4 separate regions of the Homo sapiens genome follow, and all the other regions are linked to region 1. The links come from fine-mapping of genetic effects on gene expression. A gene starts in region 1. Each other region holds a variant in brackets. All regions are shown on one strand. Distances are between the middles of the regions.

Region 1 (5,151 bases):
AACTCCTGAGCTCAGGTAATCCGCCCACCTGGGCCTCCCAAAGTGCTGGGATTACAGGGGTGAGCCACCGCACCCGGCCACTTTAACCCATTATTAACAGTTCATGTAATGCTTAATTCACTGAAACGTGACCACCGCTCACATTACTTTTACAGATCAGGTAACTCTGTTTTAAAAGTTATTCCTCTGGTTCTCAAGGTTAACAGAGATGAATAAAAGTTGATACTGAAAATGGCATACAATTTGCTTTATTTTAAAATATTCATTCTTTGCGTGGGGGTAATTAGCACTGAACAGTGTTAGCCACATAACGGTCTCTCTTCAACTATGTATGTTTTTACTAATGCAAGAATGTTAACTGAAATAATTGATCAAAGGGTAGGGGGAGCTAATTTACTTTAAGCCAACCGAATTAACGAACTTCTTTTCGCTATAAGGAGTGGTCATGTGACTCTGCAATGTAAATGAATAAAGCATTTTGTACATAAATGCAAAATAGTACACAACTCCTTATCCTCCAAACTTCTGCAAGCACGTTTTACCGTCGGGAATTACACAGAGAAGGTGCTGCCAAATTAGCTGAGTTTGGGCCCAGGTTGGATTTGCAACACCTGAATATAGCATGTGAAGGGAAGTGACAAAGGCAAGAGCCAAGTGGCCCCATTCGCCTTCTTCCCCAGACCACGTTGAGTCTGCCCAGATGTTGTCCAACCTGAGCGGTCCCCCTGAGTCCAAAGCTTCGGGAGAAGGCGCGCAACGAGGACTTCCTGCCGCCTTCTCAGGCTCCCTAAACAGTTGGAGCCTCCCTAAATGGCCACGAGGTTCCCCGGCCTCGAGCCTGTGCCAAGGGGCGCGCTGGCGAAGGCAGCAGAAAGAGCCCAACACCTGCCTCTCGCAGGCCCAGCGAGAAACCTCGCACCGCCCGCGCAGACCTGGCCGGCTGGGTTTGGGGCTCTAATCTCATCCTCACACCTGCTTAGGGAGGCAGGCGAGGGTTCTCCAGGTGTCTGGGTCCCGGGAGGATGAAAGGAAGCTGTTAATAGGCGTGCGCTGGGAGCGCAGCAGCGGACGCGCCGTGGTCGCTGGGCGTGGGAAGACCGGGATGCCTGGGCCACGGCCTGAGGGTTTGAAGGGACAGGCCGGCTCGGAGATCTCCCTTTGCTTTTTCTCTTCCCCTCGCTGGGCGACTAGCCAGGGGCTGCAGTAGCTTTCCACTCAGCCCTGCGACTTTTACACATTTCTGCCCGGGCGCACTTAGCGCGCAGCGGCTCCTGGCGCAGTGAACACAGGGTCGAGTCCTCTTGGGACGCACCCCGGACGCCCAGGCCTTCCCCCCAAAGCTCTCGCCGTCCTGTGGGGCTCCGTCGCCGTCGGGGCATTGGGTTTCCTTAATCCAGGGCTTCCCCATCTTGGGCAGGAGGAGGAGTCAGAACCCCTCCCCTCCCTCTGTCCCCCTCCTCCTCCTCCTCCGCCCACGGCCAGCCTGATTTTTAAATCTAATCTCTTATTTAAAGTCAACAGAGGAGCAGGAACCCCGCGCTCCTGCCTACAAGATATTTTTAAATAATTCTCCAACCTCTACCGAGAGGGACAGCCTTAAGGAACCTCCCTGTTTTCCCCTCTTGAAGATTTAGGTAGCAGACGTGGGGCGGGGGGCAGCGGTTCCAGGGTCGCAGCTGAAGGCCGAGAGCTCTGCGCACTTGGGGAGGAGAATTTGGGCTGGGGGCGGTGCGGGGGAAGCGACTAATACAAGAGGAATTAATCCCAAATAGCCACAATTTAACAAAAGAGCGTCAACTTGAAAAGACTTGAATCAAACCGGGAGCCGAGCCCCCAGGAGGCTCCTAGGCACGAAGCCTCCCTTGCCTCCGTCGGGGGAGATGGGGGGCAGGTGATTTCCCAGCATGTGACCCTGAAGAGGGAGGGTCTTGGGCCATTACGGGATGCGCCCAGAGACTAGGCGCGTCCGCACGCACGCACCCCCGGAGGAGACAAGCCGAAAAGACACTCCGCACCCCTCCCCGGGTCCTTGGCTCGGGACTGCGCCCCCGGTACTTTGCCCACCTCCCTCCCCAGCTGGGCGGGGACCACTGTTCTCCCTCATTCCCAAGGAGCCTCCGACCTCCTTGGACCCTTGGCGGTGAAAGGCTCCCAGCCTTCGCCCCTCCTGCCTTTCCCATTTCTTTCCCCCGCCTCCCGCCGACGCCCCCAGATCTGTTGGGCTCGCCCTTCCTGAAAGTAGGCGAGGCCCAGAAGCTGAGGTTGGGGCGCAGAAGGAGGGGGGTGGGAAGAGGGAGGAGCGGAGCGCAGCGGCCGGGGGCGTGTCTTCCACTAGCCCAGCCCCTGGGTGCGCGCGGCGGTGGTGGCGGCGGCCGAGCCTCGCTTTGAGAGACAGGTATCGCTTAGGCGCCATGTTGTGAGCGGAAGTGGGGGAGCGCGCGGCGGTCGCTGTTCTGCTGGGAGCGGGCGCGGGAACCGGCGGGGGGGGCGGAGCCGTAGTCCCGGCGGCGGAAGGAGGAGAGGAAGAAAGGGGCGAGACCCGGTGCCCAGCGGAGGCGCGAGGCTCTCGCTCAGCGCGCGGGCGTCTCTGGCCAGGCGCGCGGCTTTCGGGCGGTCGGCGTCGGCGTCGAGCCCTCTCTGGGGCCGCCGCCGCTGCTGCTGCTGCTGCCGCTGCCGCTGCCGCTGCCGCCGCCGCCGCCGCCGCCGCCGCTGCCGTGGGGCTCGGGCGGCGACGGAGCGGGGCCGGCCGTGGGGCGGGCGGGGAGGGAGGAGGCGGTGAAGGCGGCGGGCCGGGGGGGAAGATGCCGCTGGCGCAGCTGGCGGACCCGTGGCAGAAGATGGCTGTGGAGAGCCCGTCCGACAGCGCTGAGGTGAGTGCAGCAGGGCGGCCGGGGCCGGCGCATCTCCTCCTCGCGCCCCCGCCGGCTCGCTTCGCTCCCCGGAGCTGGCCACTCGGCCCGTTCTGATCCCGCTCGCGTCTTTCCCCCGGGCTCAGGGTTTTGGTTTGGGTTGTTGGGGTGGGTCTATTGGCCGGTCTGTCTGTTCCTTCCATCCTCACCCTCACCTCCTTCCCTCGCTCGGGGGGCTGCCAGTGTGGTGGCGCGTGGGGTTTGGAGTGGGCGCTGGGGCTTTGCAAGAAGCCAATTTTAATCAACTTTGCGTGGGGGAAGCGGGAGGCGGAGCGGGGGCCGGCGGGGAGTTGGGAAGTTTGGCCCAGCCGGGTCGGGGGCTTTCCCGGACCTTGGCGACTTTGGGAGATGAGGGAGGGGTAGGGATCGGGTTCACCGGGGAGCAGGGACTCTCGAGTCCAGCCGAGGGAGGGGCTGCTGCGGGGAGACCGGCGCGCGGGGCACGGGCGGCGGCGACCTGTGGGGGTTTCGGGTAGGGGGTGCAGGGTTTTGCCTCCCCCTCGTCTGCCGCAGCGGTTTCTGCTGCTGCAAAGAAGAAAGCGGAAGCCTAAGGTCCCCTACCCCCTCCGTTTCTGAGGTCGCAGAGCTAGACCCCCGTCCCTGTGAGTTTAACTTGAGTTTCCTGTCCATGGAGGTGAGAGGGTGATATTCAAGGAGATCAGCGGCCGCCGTAAAAGGCTTTCTGGTTTTCCTCGCCCGGGATCTGGTGACCGTCCCTGAGTCACCCATCCTAGTGCCCAAAACCCAAACAATATACCCAAACAGGGCAAAACAGAATTTCCCCGGGCGCATCACTACACCGAGCTTTCCTGAACCGCCCCTATCCCAGAACAACTCGGGGTCTGCGAAAATAATCCAGACAAGACCCGTTCCAAGGTATCACCGCTCCTCTCCGGAGTGGAAAATCAATTCCTGATGGTGGCGCGTCTGTGATTCTTCCTTCTTGACTTTTTGCTGCCTTCTCTCCCCGCAGCGGACTTTAGGGGATTACAGGATGATAGGCTGCGTGTGTGTAATAGTTACTGAGTGAGTGACCCCATTTCTGGAAAGCATGACTGAAACGCGGGGGTGGAACGGGGCAGGCTCTGATGAGTGGTGTGCTTGGCGGCAGCCGCTGCCCTGCCGGCCTCCGCAGTGTGAGAAGTAGATAGGGTTACTGGTTACGTCAGTAAAACCGAGGCTCAGTTTAATCTTGAGATGCGGGACACTTGCATTCTCCGGTATAATGGAGAGGGCGGGGGATCAGTTCAAATCGCTTTTCACTTTTTCCCCCAGTCACCTCCGCTGCTGTATAACAATTTTGCTTGTTCTCCTTAACGCACGCAGAGTTGTAATAGTGCTTATGATTGGTGCTTAGTATTTTGCGACTTGGATCATACTTGTAAAACCTGAACTAAATGCTGCTCTTCAATGGAAAAGACATTGATATATGTTGAAAGAAAAGGAAAGAAAGAAAGGAAATCATGTTTTTAAGACTGGCAGAATCACAAGAACTTTATTTAAAATTGTTAACCAGACTAATACTATAAATATTTTATTAAAAAGCCAAATTTATGATGTTTAATAATCCTTTAGATGGGTAGTGTGAAAAACAGTATGCAAGAGCTCGTCATATTTTTCCCCAGAAAATTTTTTGCATTAAATAATATAGCTAAAAGGTTAATAAAATGTTCGCAAAGTACTGAACTTGTGGAAAGAAATTAAATTTGCTTTGAGCCTGACTTTTACATACAAACATTAACAATTGCAACTCAAGATCAGTCCACATTTCTGCTTGGCATGTATCAGTGTGATAGGAAAACAATATCGTTTAGAATTCCACCTTATCCTTTTTCTATCTGGAATGCATTTGGATAAGGAAGGACAAAACATATTTATTTAGCACCAACTGTATGCCAGGTACTGTGCTACATTACTATTTCATTTTATCCTTCCTGTGACCCAGCAGGGTAGGATTATGGTCCCCATTGTTATAGATTAGGAAACCAAATCTCAGAATTTAAAAGGTACAAAGATGATAAATAGTAAATGGCAGAGCCATAATTCAAAGCCAGGTGGATACAATTCATGTGCTTCGTTTTATATCAGGGTAGCTGTTCCAAATCTTTTGTGGAAAAATTCGGGGTATAAATAAGCCAGTAGTTAGAGGTCATCTATTTTCCAGAAACAAATAGAGTATTATAAGAGGTCTCATTTGGTAAAGCCTTGTTATTTCAGTTACTATCATGTTTTCCAGAACTTG
Region 2 (5,151 bases), 51 kb before region 1:
GGAAAAGATGCCATAAAGGACATTATTGGGTCAATTGACAAAATTGGAATGAGAACAAAAGATTAAATAAATGTGTTGTATCAATATTAATCAAATGGAAGTTGATAACTCTATTGTGATTAGGTAACAGATTATTCTTAGGAAATACTCACTGAAGTATTAAAGACCCATAATGTATGTAACTTACTCTCAAATGCATCAGAAAAGCATTGTGTGTGTTTGTGTGTGTGTGTGTGTGTGTGTGTGTGTGTGTGTGTGTGTGTAGAGAAGATATACAGGCAGATCTAAAGTAAATGAGGTAAAATGTGTACAGTAAGTGAATCTAGGTAAAACATATGTAGATGATATTTGTACCATTTTTATTCTTGCAACTTCTCTGTAAGTTTAAAATTATTTCTGAATGAAAGTGTTTTTTTTAATCATGTCTGGGCCAAGTGTGGTGGCTTATACCCACTGAAAGTAATCCCACTGCTTTGAGAGGCTGAGGCAGGAGTATCACTTGAGTCCAGGAGTTCGAGACCATCCTGGGCAACACAGAGAGACCACATCACTACTAAAAATTTTTTTAATTAGCCAGGTGTAACAGTGAGCACCTGAATTCCCAGCTACTTGGGAGACTGAGGTGGGAGGATTGCTTGAGCCCGGGAGTTCGAGGTTGCAGTGAGCTATGATCACACCACAGCACCCCAGACTGGGTGACAGAGTGAGACCCTGTCTCAGGAAAAAAAAAAAAAAAAAAAAAAAAAAAAAAGGATGTCTGCACAAGACTTTGCATTTGTGATATTTAACAAGTTCAATTGTTATATCCATATTCATCCATCTATCTTCAGTAATCATGTCTCCAGCACTATGCTAAAATGCTGTAGAGATTGAAGAGAGAAATAGGCATAATTTTTTCTTTAAGTAGTTCATTTCTACTTTAGAAGAGAGGACACAAACACATAAATAGACAGAAATCATGATAAGCAGCAAATGCTGAAGACCAAATGAGTAGTAGCGGCAAAGGGAAGACGAAATGGAATTTCAGGGCTTTAGGGAGGAGGTGGAAGTTGAGTGAGGCCTTTGAGCAGGGACTGGGTTTGGAAAGGAGCAGAAGAGCAGAAAGAGCACTCCAAGTGGAGAGCACAGTGAGACCCAAGCTGGCAAGGTAGGAAAGCACACCCTGTTGCGAGCAGTATGATTTAAGAGGTTTCACTGGCAGTGGGGTGGGGAGGATCAGGGTAGGAATGTTAGTTGGGGCCAACTGCGGACACATGGAAATACCAGGTTAAGGAGTCTGGAGTTGATTGCAGAGGCCAGAGGTCAGCAACAGCTTAGAAGTGCTGACCCCTCTTTCTTCTGCTTCTAGACAACACAGTTCAAGCTGGGAGTGGGCTGTGTCAATGATGGTGGAAGGACACCAAGAAGGATCCAATATTTGGAAACATCTCCTTCATAGATCCTACCAATCAGGAATCCATTTGAAAACACAACTATCTTTCAGAAGCAAATCTGGTAGTTATTGTTTACAATTAAGTACACTTTAATCAGTTAAACCCATGACTGTGTCAGTCACACTGAGGGAATGGAAACGTTTAAAGGAGGATAAAGAGCAGTAATTTTGGAGAACTGGGTGAAGGAAGGCTGACAGGGCAGGTGTATTAATGAGGGTAATTAATGGTAGCTGCTGTAACAAAAAAAAGTCTCAGCAATTTAACATAGTAAAGGTTTATTTCTCATTCATTAATGTCAAAATCTGGTACAGGTGGGGCAGCTCTCCTTAGTAGGTGTCTTCCAATTAGTGACTCAGAAATCAGCTGCTATCTTGTGAGGCTGCCATCTTAAACCCATGGCCTCTGAAATCACCATAGGAAAGAAAGATTGAGAGGGATTATCACACCAGGAGTTTTGTGGCCAGGCCTGAAGGTGACATCGATCACTCTGCCCATGACTTCAGTCACATAGGCTCAACCGACAGCAATACGTACTACCACTGGAATATGTAGTTGTTCCGTGTGCCCAGGAAGAAGAAATAAGACGGTAAGTATCATAGTTTTGGGTTCCCCCAAAAGCCAGCTCTGAGACAGGGATATGGGTACTAATAGCTTAGGTGAGAGGTGACCTCAGGAAATGCAAAGAGAATAGGGAAGTAAGTCAAAAAAAAGAAGGAAGCCAATACAGTGTGTTCATGAGCCTACTCTGGGCGCCACAGGCTCAATCCTACTGGAGACTTCTGGGATAAAACTTCTGTATAAAACAAGCCCCAAGTTGTTCCACCTGAGACGTGAAAAAGCTGATTGATTTCTCCAACAACTCATGTCCTTCGCTGGTTGTGGGCTAATCCCTGGGAAATCAACTCTGGCATTTCTGGCAGCAGGTCAAGCATGCTCCAGTGGCCAGGGAAAGTCCTCGGGCAGAGACATCACATGTGCTTCCTTGTGAAGCAAGCAGTATATACTGAATAGTGAGTGCTGAATGCATGTAAAAGGGACACTAAGAGCATCTGCTACA[G/C]TGAGCACCCACCGGTAGCAGATAACCCTGATCAAAGTGTTCCTTGGGGGGCAGAGAACAGCCTGAGGTCATGGCTCTGGGGTGAGTCCTGGAAATGCATTTTCAACAAGCTTGCCAACATGGGCTCAAGCAGTCCATTTATAGATGAGCACTTGGAAATACTTCCCATTCTCAAACTTTTGTCATTTCACTTCTCTCAAAACCACTTTAGTGGACCTGTTCTCTGTAAGGTCACTACTGCCCTCCACTTCAAATTCCATTGTCTCCTCAAGTCCTCAACTTAGTCATTTGACTAATGTTATTATTTCCTTCTTCTTGAAACACTTTTCTTCCTTCTGGGATCCTCTGCTCTCCTAGTACTTCTCCTACCTTCCTGGGTGCTCTCTGCACTCCTAATAACCAAGCAGCTCACTTTTCCCTGGAGGCCCGCCATTGTTCCTGGTCACTACACCTAGACTTTGAGAAGAAACCAGAAATGGTAAGTGGATCTATTGGTAATAGCTGCCTGAAGTCATGCATTGAGAAGGATTCTGAGGCTGTGTGGTAATTTAGCTACGTCTGCCATGGGTGTTGGCATAGGGTGGGCAGATTTCAGACATCAGCTCTGCTGTAGATCTTTCTCAAGTTTTCATCTTCTTTGATCTCCCTGGACAATCTCATCCACTCCTGAGGCACTAGCTATCATTTCTATATAGACACCACCTAAATATATATTTCTATTCATGACCTCTCTCAGGAGTTCCAAACCCATATTTCTAACTTTTCAGGGAACATATTAACCTCGATTTTTATTTTCTAATTACATTCTCTCTCATCTGCATTCTCCATGTCACATGATGGATTTACCATCTTTCAAAACACCCCAGCTTAAAACCTTGGCAATGCCTTCACTCCCTTAATATTTTCTCATCACCTTTCCCTATAGTTTAACATAATGCTCAACGAATTGTATTGGAATTACTTGTTTACTCTCTGCCCTAAAACACTGTGGATTCTCTAAATAAAAGAACCGGATCTAATCCATCTTGCATCTTCAGCTGCCAGAACTGTTTCAGGCACAAAGTAGACACTGAGCAAGTGCCTAAGGATATATTTACATGTATATGATGTATATGTGTGTGTGTATATTACATATATATAAGTACATATGTAAATCATGTGTGTGTGTGTGTTTTGTTTCTTCTCTTTAGCTCTTCCACCCCTTCCACCCTATATAGCTAATCAGTCACCAAGCTCCATCTAGTCAATTGCTTCAGAAAGACATCCACATACGCCAGCTTCTTTTCCATCCTCATTGCTTGTCACAGGTTGTGTGCCCTGGAAAACAGACTCTGAGATAGAGATTTAAATACAGGAATTTGATTAGGAATGCTCTCAGGAACAGCACCTATGGGGCAGTAAGGGCAGCAGGAGTAGGCAGAGGGAGGAGTTGGGCTACAACACAGTCATAATAAAAGTATCAGTTGACCCTAAGGGGAGCTCTGGAGCCAGGATGGACCTTTGCTGATTTTCCAAATTGGGAACAGTGCCTGGGCCTTTGTAACACCCCCTCGCACCATTGACGAATTATTAGATGTGGGCTGCTCCAGAGAAAGTCTGTGATTTGGAGCTAGTAAGGTCTCTTCAGCTGAGAGCAAGTCCCAGAAAGAAATTCCACTGAAAGCCATCAGTCACCAACATTTCCTGCCACTGGGGTAATGAGTGTCTCATTCCTGGAGTGGGGATCTTAGAGGCTCACCACAGCATCCACTACCCTGCTGGCATCCTAGTTCAGGCCCACGTAACCTCCCCTACTGCAGGCATTGCTAAACAGTCTCACTGCCTCCAACCTCTTTTTTTCCAATCCGTCCTTGGCCCTGACACCCAGACTAATTTTTCACAAATGGATCTGATATATTCCTGATATCAGAGTCAACACAGCTTATTAAGCAGTATGTGACAATTCAACTTGCATGTGGGAAGGGGGAGAGAAACGTGTGTGTGTGTTTATAAATATACACATAGGAAAGTATTTCTGGAAAAACCCATGGGACATAAAGTAGATTCGTGGTTGCCAGGGGAGGGAGAATGAGGAGTGACTGCTAATGGGTATGAGGTTTCTTTTTGAGGTGATGTAAATATTCTGGAATTAATGGCGATGGTTCCATAACCTTGTGAATATACTAAAACCCACGGAATTGTATACTCTGAAATGGTTAATTTGATGGCATTTGAGTTATATCTCAATTTTTTTAAAAAAAAAAAGTATCTCAGAGTTGACATATGAAAGTGATAGTGGTGAATATCAGGTTTTTATCCTTTATGTACCCTGGCTTTTCAGACTTTTATAACGTATTTTTTAATATTAATTTAGGAAGGAAAAAAATTCACCCTTCAAAATCACTTTTCTGCTTTAAAACCTCATCCCTATGCATGGAGTGAAGGCCACACTACTTGCAAAGTTGTCCAGGCCTTTTCTGAGCAGGCCCCAACCTGCTTTGACAGACACTCATCTTTCACTCTCCTGTGACTCTCCTCCCCTGAGACTCTCCTCCCCTGACTTCAGCTACTTCAGATTTCTTCATTTCCTGAACATGCCCTGGGCTTCCTTGCCTCTGAGGCTTTCTTCCCTGCCACTCACAGCCACCCCTTTCTTTGTCTCCACTCTGATCCAGCCCTACC
Region 3 (5,151 bases), 150 kb before region 1:
GAAAATGCCTCTAGCTAAAAGATTCTATTCCTCGGCCTCTCTTGCAACTTGGTATGGCCACGTGACTAAGTTCCAACCTGTGAGCTATAAACAAAAGTGTTGTGTGGGAATTCCAGGAAGGCTGCTTGAGGGAAGCTGAGTCACTGGGAAGAGGCCTGTGCTATGCAGCCCCTATGATGCCACCTCCTGGGATTTAGGCCCTCGTACAACCCCCTCCGCTTGAGTGTGGGCTAAATTTCTAATGGGAGAAGCCAGCTGCCATGTCATAAGGCAGCCCTCTGGAGGGGCCTACATAAGTAAGCTTGAAAGGGGACCTTGTGAGGCCTGCCAACAACTGCAGAAGTGAGCTCAGAAGTGGATCCTCCCCAGTTGAGCTAGAGATGACTGCAGCCCCTGCCGACACCTTGATTGCAGCCTGTAAGAGCATGAGCCACGACCACACAGCTAAGCCGCTCCCGATGATGAGCCACAGACACTGTGAGATAGTGTTTATCATATCCAGCCCTCAAGTGTTGAGGTAATTTATTACACAGCAATACACCACTAATCCAGAACCCCTTGACCCTCCTCAGCTGTTTCATTCTGCTGCTGGCCTTGTACCTGGGTACAGGAGTGAGAGCTGCACAAGCCTCTCTCCACCATAAGGACAGAATCCACAGGATGAGCATGGCAGAGTCAAATGGAGGCATCTAGGTCCTGTGGATGCCTGAAAGCCAACACAGGGCTGCGCACTTCCTGACTCTCTTTACATGAGGGAGAAATAGACTCCTCTTTTATTGAAGCTTGAAAAAAAAAAAAAAACATGTATGCCTGGCTCTCTTCCTTTCATCAAGTCTCTAAAATAGCAATATAATTTTTAATAGACACTTAGCTCTTGCTATGTGCCAGACTGTATCTAAATGCTTTACAGATATTAACCCATGAAATTGTCATCACAACCCTATTGTGAGTTCCACTTTGCAGATGAGTAACCTGGAGCTCAGAGAGGTTAAGTGACTTGCTGAAGGTCACCCAGCTAGGAAGTGGCAGAGCCAGGATTATCAACCCAGGCACTCTGGCTGCAAAGTCTGTGCTTTCAGCCATGAAGCCCTGTTGTGTTAACATTTACTAAGCACTTCCTGAGTGCCAAACATCATGCTAATTGCTTCACACTTTTTACAGATGAGGAATCTGAAGCTCAGAGAGGGTTAAGTACCTTTCTCAAAACCACAGTCTAGAAGTGGCAAGTTGAAATTCAAATCTACATTTCTTTGCTTCCAGGGCCAGCACTCTTACTACTTGGGAAATGACGCTTCTATTCTGGGCTTCATTTGTCTTCAAGCATTCCCAGTGACTGCGTCATTTAGCCCAGCGCTCCCCAAACTTGGCTGTGCTTACAGATCATCCGGGGTTCTTGGTATATAGAGATTTTGACTCTATTTATCAAGTAGGTATGAGCCTTGGCCTGAGAATCCGCATTTCTCGCACACCACCCACTGCCTCTCTTACCAGGTGACTGTAATGCTACTGGTTCAGGGACCACAATTTTCATATCAGGGATCCACTTCCCCCTAAACTTCAAGCCATATGGGAACATCACCTCTCTTATGGTAGTGGTCCTCCTAAATTCAGGCCAGTCGGCTCATTCCCTCCTGTCTCATGTGGCCTTCCTGTCTCTTCTGACTGCAGGGGCTGTGTTTCTCCTGGAAGGATGGAGGAGACTGACATTCTCCTTAGCAAGGCTTGACCTTAAGTGGCTATAAAACAAGAGGGAACTGGAGGAGGTGGTCAATCAAGTTCTTTCCAGCTCTAAAAGTTCTTGATTTTGTGCACAATATGATTTTCTGCCACTTCCCACACCTTTGTACTTCTCTGATGAAGCAACAAAGTAATCTGAATTACCACATAATTAAATGCATCTAATTTGACACAGGGGAAATCAGTGTGTCCGACAGAGAAGCGAAGAGACTTGCCAGGTTACAGAGCTAAAGGGCTGGCGAGCTGTAACCAGATGCTGGTGTTTCTCAGGCTTGACGACACCTCTGGGGGTCCAGTTAAAATACAGAGGCAGATCCAGGAGGTCTGGGGTGGCACCAGAGAGTCTGCATTTCTAAGCAGTTCTCAGGTAAAGCCGATGCTGCTGGCCCAGGGACCTCGCTTTGAGGGGCACAGGTCCAGGGTGCTTTTCTTATACTACTGCTCTCCTCTCCAACTGGGCAACCGCAGCATCAGTAATGTAGCCCCCATGCACAGAAGAGGCAGGAAGAACAAAATGAGACAGGAAGGAATGAGTC[G/A]AGTGGCCCGAATTTAGAAGGACCACTACCGCAAGAGAGGTGAGGTTCCCGTACGGCCTGAAGTTCAGGGGGAAGTGGTTAGAGTCCCTGCGAGGGCTGAGAACACAACAAAAGCAAAGAAGTACATACACACAGACGCAACTTCCGGCTCTTGGGCAGAGCTTTTCTGGCATTTCTCTGACACAAGTGCCAGTCCCCCCCCACCAACCCCCAACCTCGCCGAGCTGATCTTGGCCCTGTAGGCACAAATCTGAGTGGCATCGGGAGTACAGGGGCCCAGCCTCAGGGGAAGCCCACAGGAGACAGCACTATTTACATGGAACCAACCCAAATCCCCATCAATGATAGACTGGGTAAGGAAAATGTGGCACATATACACCATGGAATACTATGCAGCCACAAAAAGGAATGAGATCATGTCCTTTGCAGGGACATGGATGAAGCTGGAGGCCATCATCCTCAGCAAACTAACACAAGAACAGAGAATCAAATACCACATGTTCTCACTCATAAGTGGGAGTTAAACATTGAGGACACATGAACACAGTGAGGGGAACAATACACACCAGGGCCTGTTGGGGGTTGGGGTAAGGGGAGGGAGCTTAGAGAATGGGTCAATAGATGCAGCAAACCACCATGACACATGTATACCTATGTAACAAACCTGCACGTTCTGCACGTGTATCCCTTTTCTTTTTTTAGAAGAAAAAAAAAAAGAAATATGGTCTTCCCCCGATGGCTCACGCCTGTAATCCCAGCACTTTGGGAGGCAGGTAGATCACTTGATGCCAGGAGTTCGAGACCAGCCTGGCCAACACGGCAAAACCCTGTCTCTACTAAAAATACAAAAATTGGCCCAGTGTGGTGGCAGGCACCTGTAATCCCAGCTACTCGGGAGGCTGAGGCAGGAGAATCGCTTGAGCCAGGAGGTGGAGGTTGCAGTGAGCCAAGATCACATCACTGCACTCCAGCCTGGGCAACAGAGTGAGAGTCCGTCTCAAAAGGAAAAAAAAAAATACCACACACACACAGAAAAAATATGGTCTCTACCCTCGAGGAATTTGTCATCTATGTAGGGGAGCCAATGTGAAGCAAGCTGGGAGTTTAAGAGAGCTCCTAACTTGGCAGTAAGGTACTGGACGTGCAGTGGGAAGTCTCAGATAAAGAAATGGATATGGGTCTGAGAAAGTCAGAAAAGGCTTCATGGAAGAGGTGATACCTGAGTCGGGGTCTTAGGTAGATGCGGTCAAGTACTAAAGTGGCCCCAATTCCTCCCTGTTCTCTGTATCTTCACTCTTTGCCATGAAACTTTGCAGTGCCCCATCCCCGGCCACTTTAATTCTGGACTCAGCCATGTAGCTTGCTTTGGACATTAGGAAGCTAAAATTCTTCACAAAGCAGGGATCTGAAAAATTGCTTACATAGTTTCACTAGCCTTTTTATGCCTCAGTCACCACCAGGAAAATATGCCCAGGTGTATGCCCAGGCAAGCAGGGCGCAGCCAATTCATCCCAGTTGTCCCAGCTATAATAGCCAGCCAGACCCCAGACATAGGATCAAGCTCAGCCAAGGTCAGCAGAGCCACCTAACCAACCTCCCCAGGGGTGCAAGCACTGAGTTCTTATCGTTGTATGCCACGGAGGTTCTGTGGCTGTTTTTATGCAGCATTATTATGAAAACACGCAACTGATACAATAGGCAATGAGATTGGAAGAAACGAACACTCAAACATTTCCTGCAGTGACTCCTTTAGAAAACTGGCTTTGTGTGGTATTAATTGCTACTTAAAACAAAGTTCCCCTGGTTAAATGCACTTGAGAACCACAGTAAATGAAGATAACAGATTTCTTGATGAAGGACTTCCCAGGGCCTCGACTGTGAAATTGTGCACCGTGAAACTCCAGGAGGCAGCATTCAGAATGCAACACGTCCCAAACATTTTTTGAAGTGTTTAGGGATATAGGAGCTGTTAGTCTCAGCAAATCATGTGTCATTTCACAACTAGCAGATAAGTTTCCCCAGGACAGGAATATTGTCCTTCTTGTCTAGTGTTGTCTCTGGAGACCTAGGGCGATGCTTGCCACATGATCACCCGCTAAATATGTGTGCAAGGAAGGCAGAGAGGGAAGGGAGAAGGGAGGTAGCACAGATGTGGTGTTTCTTGCCTCTGCTCTTCCATTTGTACCATTGCTTCTGTGAACCATAAATGTATTGGCTTTGTCTACCTGGTGAGCCCCAATTATCCTTCAAAACTCAGCTTACAAGTCATCATTTCTCTGAAAACTTCTCTGACCTCCTCAAGCAAAGTTGGGTAATTCATTCACCATTATAGATACTGTAAGTACTGTTGCTTCTGTCCACATCCCCTGCAGTGCTGGGGGCTGCATTGTCGATTTCATCTTTCCTACCATGCTAAGTGTAAAGTCCACCATACTGTAGGTGCTTAATGAGTATGCACTAGAAAGAGGCCAGTAGAGAGGGAGGGAGGGAAAAAGGAAAGAGATGGACGGGGAGGAAAGAGAGAATGAGGGAGGGAGGGAGGAAGGAAGAGGGAGAGAGGGAGGCAGAAATTAATAAAGCATACTCAGAGATCATTTTCATAATAGCAAATGGTTGGTAATGATAGGATTGGAGAGGTTTCCTGGGGACAGGTAGTGGAGAGACATGGATATAAGAAAATGAGTTTACCCTATATTCTGTAAGAAGCCACAAATTAAGCAAGGAGGTAGCATTAGATCAGCTTTCCTCTGCAAATTGTTTTCAGTCGACAGGTAAAATGCTACTATACTACGTATTCCAAGGTAACCCGAATACAATTTAAGCTATTTACTTAATAGAGGAGATCATATGTAGCAAAAAGAAAAAACATTGCACAAGG
Region 4 (5,151 bases), 130 kb before region 1:
ATACACAATGCACTTTCATATGCCATTTACTAAAACCCAGAGAGGAGGGGGAACTACATTTCCAGCCTTAAAAGCTTAGCATTTCTGCCATGATTTCTTAGAAAATGCATGCTGGATTCTACCAGAAGGGACAAAGCATCTGGAGCAGATACTATTAGTTGCCTACCCTAAAATCCATCCTGCCCTTCTCTGTAATAAAACTTCCAACTCTTAGGGTAGCACATGGCCACCCAAAATTAAGGTTTAGTCAATGAGATATAAGCAGAGGTTGTACGGCAGCATCCAGAAAACCTCTTTAAAAGATTAGATGGATGATTTCCCCTTCTCCACTTTTAAAAAAAATTCTGGAATGTAGATGCATTCATTGGAACTCTAGCCATCACTTTGGACCGTGAGAAATAGGGCTGGTGGAATAATGAGCTAAAAAGAACATGAGTCCTCAATGACTTCGTGAAGCCACCATATCAGCCTTGTGATCTATGTTTTATTTACACAGAGAGAAAAATAATCTTCCATATTTTATGTTTTTGTTATTTTGATTTCTAACACATCCAGCTGAACCTAGTCATTCTAATAATATCTTTTAGCATCTTGCTTGGAATCAAAATCAAATTTTGCAGTGATTCCACTTTCTTTACATTTTTGAAAATGGCAATGACATTTACCTGTCTCCAGATTTCTGGGACATCCCTGCTTTCCATAATTCTTCAAAGATGTTTATTGATTTTTCAGCAATCTCTTTTACAATATTCATGTCAGGCTCGGCTTTCAATTAATTCAGATTAATTGTTTACCAACATCCAATCTAATTAACTAGTTCGCTCCCCTGATGCAATCTTTTCACTCATCCTACTTTACTCTCGCCTCTTACCATTGTTTTATTCTCCATGTCAATTATTACATAGACAATAGGGTGAATTAAAGATGGCTAGAAATTATTTGTCACTCTCCCCTCAAAAGGTGGAGTTTATTTCCCCTCCCCTTGAATCAGGGATGGCTCCGTGGCTGCTTACCAACAGAAGGCAGCAGAAATAGTACTGAGCCAATTCTTTGCCTACCCTGTAAGAGGACTGGGCAGCTTCCACTTTTGTTTCCTCTCTCTTCAAATAGTCACACTTAAGACACTCCCTTTTGGAAGCCATCTGCCATGTTAGTGAGCCATTGTGATGCCCAGCCCGGTCAAGCCCCTAGTTGATTACAGCCCAGTCAATATCACATGAAGCAGAAGAATTACTCAGCTGAGTCCAGTCAACCCTGAAAATCATGAGAAATAATAAATGGTTATTATTTTGAAGCTACTAAATTTGGGGGTAGTTTGTTACACAGAAATAGATAATTTCTGTGCAGTAATAATTTTATAAATGATATAGTAGTTGGCAATTGAAGCGGAACTTTTTTAATGACAAAATTCCCAGAAATGCTAGTTATTTCAGGGAGGAAAAAACTTTATTGAGGATGTGATATTTCATTATTTCATGCATTCATTCACTCACATTTATTATCTCTGCCAGGTGTCTGTTAAGTGCTGAATTACCACAAGGCACATTTCTTGATCTTAAGGAGCTCACAGAGTAGTAGAATTTGAACTAAATGGGAACAATTCAAATCATTTTACATATTTCTGGACTATTTTTTTGGAAGAGTCATATAGACTGAAAATTCCCCACACTGAATTTGACCAAAGAACACCTATTTCTGTCCATGTATTTCTGTGGAACAATTCTTGAAGGCCATTTCAGATAGAATCCACTGTAGTCAAGCCCTGAAATTCTGTGCCGCTGAGGGTTCAAAAGAGGTTAAAAACTGGCTTACAAGAAATGCTATTGCCCTTAACCCAGAGCAATAGTGCTAGCTTCTGAGGGTGTGGTCAAAGCAGACGTCTTAACATTTCTGAGGGATTCAGCTTTTTTTCTTCCAATAATGATCAGTTTATATAATAAGGGCACAAGCCTCCCCACCTCCCATCCTACACCTTCCCACCTCAGAATAGGCAGTCTGAAACTGTCTCAGTGAGGAATTTAGGCTACAGCTGGAGAGACTCAGTAAATCTTCACAGTTCTATAGAAACAGGGAGACAGGAAGGGAAAGAAACATTGCAGAAACTTCCAGGAGAATTATGTGAAGAAGTCCTGCCAGGACAATACAGCTGGGCAACATCTTGCCTTTCTTTTTTTCTATGGAAACTCTGCTCAAAACACACACACACACACACACACACACACACACACACACACACACATCATACACACAACAAAAACACACACTCACTAAGCAGAATTTGCCAGTTTTGCTAGCCAGGGTTAGTTTTGCAATCAGTGATAAACCTCAGCAGGACAAGCTTCTTCGCGGCTATATTG[G/C]AGTAACTCAGGGCAACCAAAACAGATGGCCAAAATACTCTTCAGAAAGCAAACACGGTTTCTGTTGCCAGGCCAAGTGGAACCCCCAGGAAGTAAGGTTTCAGAGAGGGAAATTTTGGAGGTTCTTCTTCAAGAATGGAAAATGCGAATTTCACTTATTGTTCGACTACACTTCTTAGGAAACTTCCATGTCAGAAGAGGGATACTAAGATGTAAAGAACCCAGTCCTTGCCTTCTATACGAGAAAAGGTTATTCTCTTTCTGTGCCTCCTTGGCCCTTACATAGTAACTTCTCCTAACACTTCCTCAGAAGCGGTAGAAGGGGTAGACAGAAGCTTTCACCCCACACTCCCCTCCTCCATGAGACATTTCATGAATACAGACAGAAGTCTGACATCCATTCATCTTTCCTCAGGTGGCAAAAATGTCAGTGAGCAGAAATGCCCCCCCTCTTCATCTGACTTTCTTGATCCAGCCGGCCTATGGAAGGAGCTCCTAGGCCTTGCATTCTTTTCCCCATTATGAGCACATCAGGGCGGGACTTCCTTGCCTTGCAAAAGAGACCTTCCGTTTTCTACTTTTCCCTCCCTTGACTTGGGCAATTAAAGCCCAAAATAGGAGACAGATTGATGTGGGCCTTAGTTCTGATGGGAGTCCCTCTTTCTTGCTTCTTTTATCGCCATGAGAAGAACAGACCATGATTAAGCCAATAATTCAAGAAGGATGAGAGACATATGAAGAAACCCTCAACTCACCCTACAGTTGGAGCTACCCAGCTGAGTCTAGCTGAAATCAGTAAAGCTGCCCCCACCAACCTGCAGACATGTGGAAACTTAAAGCTTATTATCATTTGCCACTGAGATTTTTGTGGTTGGTTGCAACAATAGCTAGTTGATACAGAAACTGGTGATTACAGGTAATTAAAAGGCTGAACTCTGGATTCCAATTGCCTGGGTTCAATGGCAAACTCTCCAAACCAAAAGCTGATAAACTCAAACAAGTTACTCTCACTCTGTGTGCTCTGTTTGTATATCAATAAACTGGGATAAGACTGTTTTCTTTCCTCAGAGGATTGTTGTGAAAACTAGATTTCTCAATACACTCAAAGTATGTGAAGCAATACCTGGCACACAGTAAACATTCAATAAATGTTTTCCGGCATTATTTTATCTAACAAAGCTGATGCTGTATTTTTGCACATGAATACAAATTTTTGAATCAACTTCCAAACTTCCAAACTTCCACCACTCTGCAGGGATTTTTATTGGGATTGCATTAAATCTATAGATCAGAGGGAATTGGCATCTTAATATTGAGTCTTCCAATCCATAAATGTGCTATATCACTCCATTTATTTAGGTCTTTAGCTTTTCTCAGCAATGTTTTCTAATGTTCAGCATTAAAATCTTGCACATATTTTGTTACATTTATACCTAAATATTTCACGTTTTTGACAATATTGTAAATGATATTGTTTATTTCAATTTCCAATTTTTTATTGTTAGGACCTAATTAAACTAAAGAGCTTCTGCATGGCAAGGGAAACTATCAACAGAATAAACAGACAACCTACAGAATGGGAGAAAATTTTTGCAAATTATGCATCTGACAAAAGTCTAATATCCAGCATCTATAAGGAACTTAAACAAATTTACAAGAAAAAAGCACACAACCTCGTTAAAAAGCAGGCAAAGGACATAAACAGACACTTCTCAAAAGAAGACATACATGCAGCCGACAAACATGAAAAAAAAGCTCAACGTCACTGATCGTTAGAAAAATGCAAATCAGGCTGGGCACGGTGGCTCACGCCTGTAATCCCAGCACTTTGGGAGGCCGAGGCGGGCAGATCACGAAGTCAGGAGATCGAGACCACTGTGAAACCACGTCTCTACTAAAAAAATATATATATATACAAAAAATTAGCCGGACGCAGTGGTGGGCGCCTGTAGTCCCAGCTACTCTGGAGGCTGAGGCAGGAGAATGGCGTGAACCCGGGAGGCAGAGCTTGCAGTGAGCTGAGATCGCGCCACTGCACTCCAGCCAGGGTGACAGAGCGAGACTTCGTCTCAAAAAAAAAAAAAAAAAAGAAAAGAAAAATGCAAATCAAAATCACAATGAAATACCATCTCACACCAGTCAGAAAGACTATTATTAAAAAGTCAAAAGATAACAGATGCTGGTGAGGCTGCAGAGAAAAGGGATCACTTATACACTGCTGGTGGGAGTGTAAATTAGCTCAACCATTCTGGAAAGCAGTGTGGCAATTCCTCAAAGGGCTAAAAACAGAACTACCATTTGACCCAGCAACCCCATTACCAGGTGTATACCCAAAATAATATAAATTGTTCTACATAAAGACACATGCACACATATGTTCACTGTGGCACTATTCACAATAGCAAAGACATGGAATCAACCTAAATGCCCATCAATAATAGACTGGATAAAGAAAATATGGTACCTATACACCATGGAATACTATACAGTCATTAAAAAAGAATGAGATCATGTCTTCTGCGGGAACATGGATGGAGCTGGAGGCCATCATCCTTAGCAAACTAACACAGGAACAGAAAACCGAATACCACACGTTCTCACTTGTAAGTGGGAGCTAAATTGTGAGAACACATGGACACATAGAGGAGAAGAATGCACACTGGGGCCTACTTGGCGAAGAAGGGTAGAGGGTAAGAGGAGGGAGAGGAGCAGAAAAAATAATGAATGGCTACTAGGCTTAGTACCTGGTTGATGAAATATTCTGTGCAACAAACCCCCATGACACAAGTTTACC

What was found. PIP is the estimated chance that this variant, and not a neighbour inherited with it, causes the effect.
Region 2: its variant is fine-mapped to the expression of RPS6KA3 in whole blood (TOPMed, PIP 0.98).
Region 3: its variant is fine-mapped to the expression of RPS6KA3 in whole blood (TOPMed, PIP above 0.99).
Region 4: its variant is fine-mapped to the expression of RPS6KA3 in whole blood (TOPMed, PIP above 0.99).

The regions. Positions count from the first base shown.
Region 1 is chrX:20,264,283-20,269,433 of GRCh38, reverse strand. RPS6KA3 (ribosomal protein S6 kinase A3) reads left to right here and starts at 2,525. Exons shown (of 22, transcript NM_004586.3): 1 at 2,525-2,870. The coding sequence starts at 2,802. RefSeq lists silencers at 1,749-2,043, 2,465-2,684, 2,805-3,064 and an enhancer at 4,245-4,294.
Region 2 is chrX:20,315,290-20,320,440 of GRCh38, reverse strand. No RefSeq gene overlaps it. Among named protein-coding and RNA genes, the nearest start is that of RPS6KA3, 51 kb to the right of the region's middle. The variant G/C (reference allele first, on the strand shown) is at 2,491.
Region 3 is chrX:20,410,262-20,415,412 of GRCh38, reverse strand. No RefSeq gene overlaps it. Among named protein-coding and RNA genes, the nearest start is that of RPS6KA3, 150 kb to the right of the region's middle. The variant G/A (reference allele first, on the strand shown) is at 2,274.
Region 4 is chrX:20,392,402-20,397,552 of GRCh38, reverse strand. No RefSeq gene overlaps it. Among named protein-coding and RNA genes, the nearest start is that of RPS6KA3, 130 kb to the right of the region's middle. The variant G/C (reference allele first, on the strand shown) is at 2,358.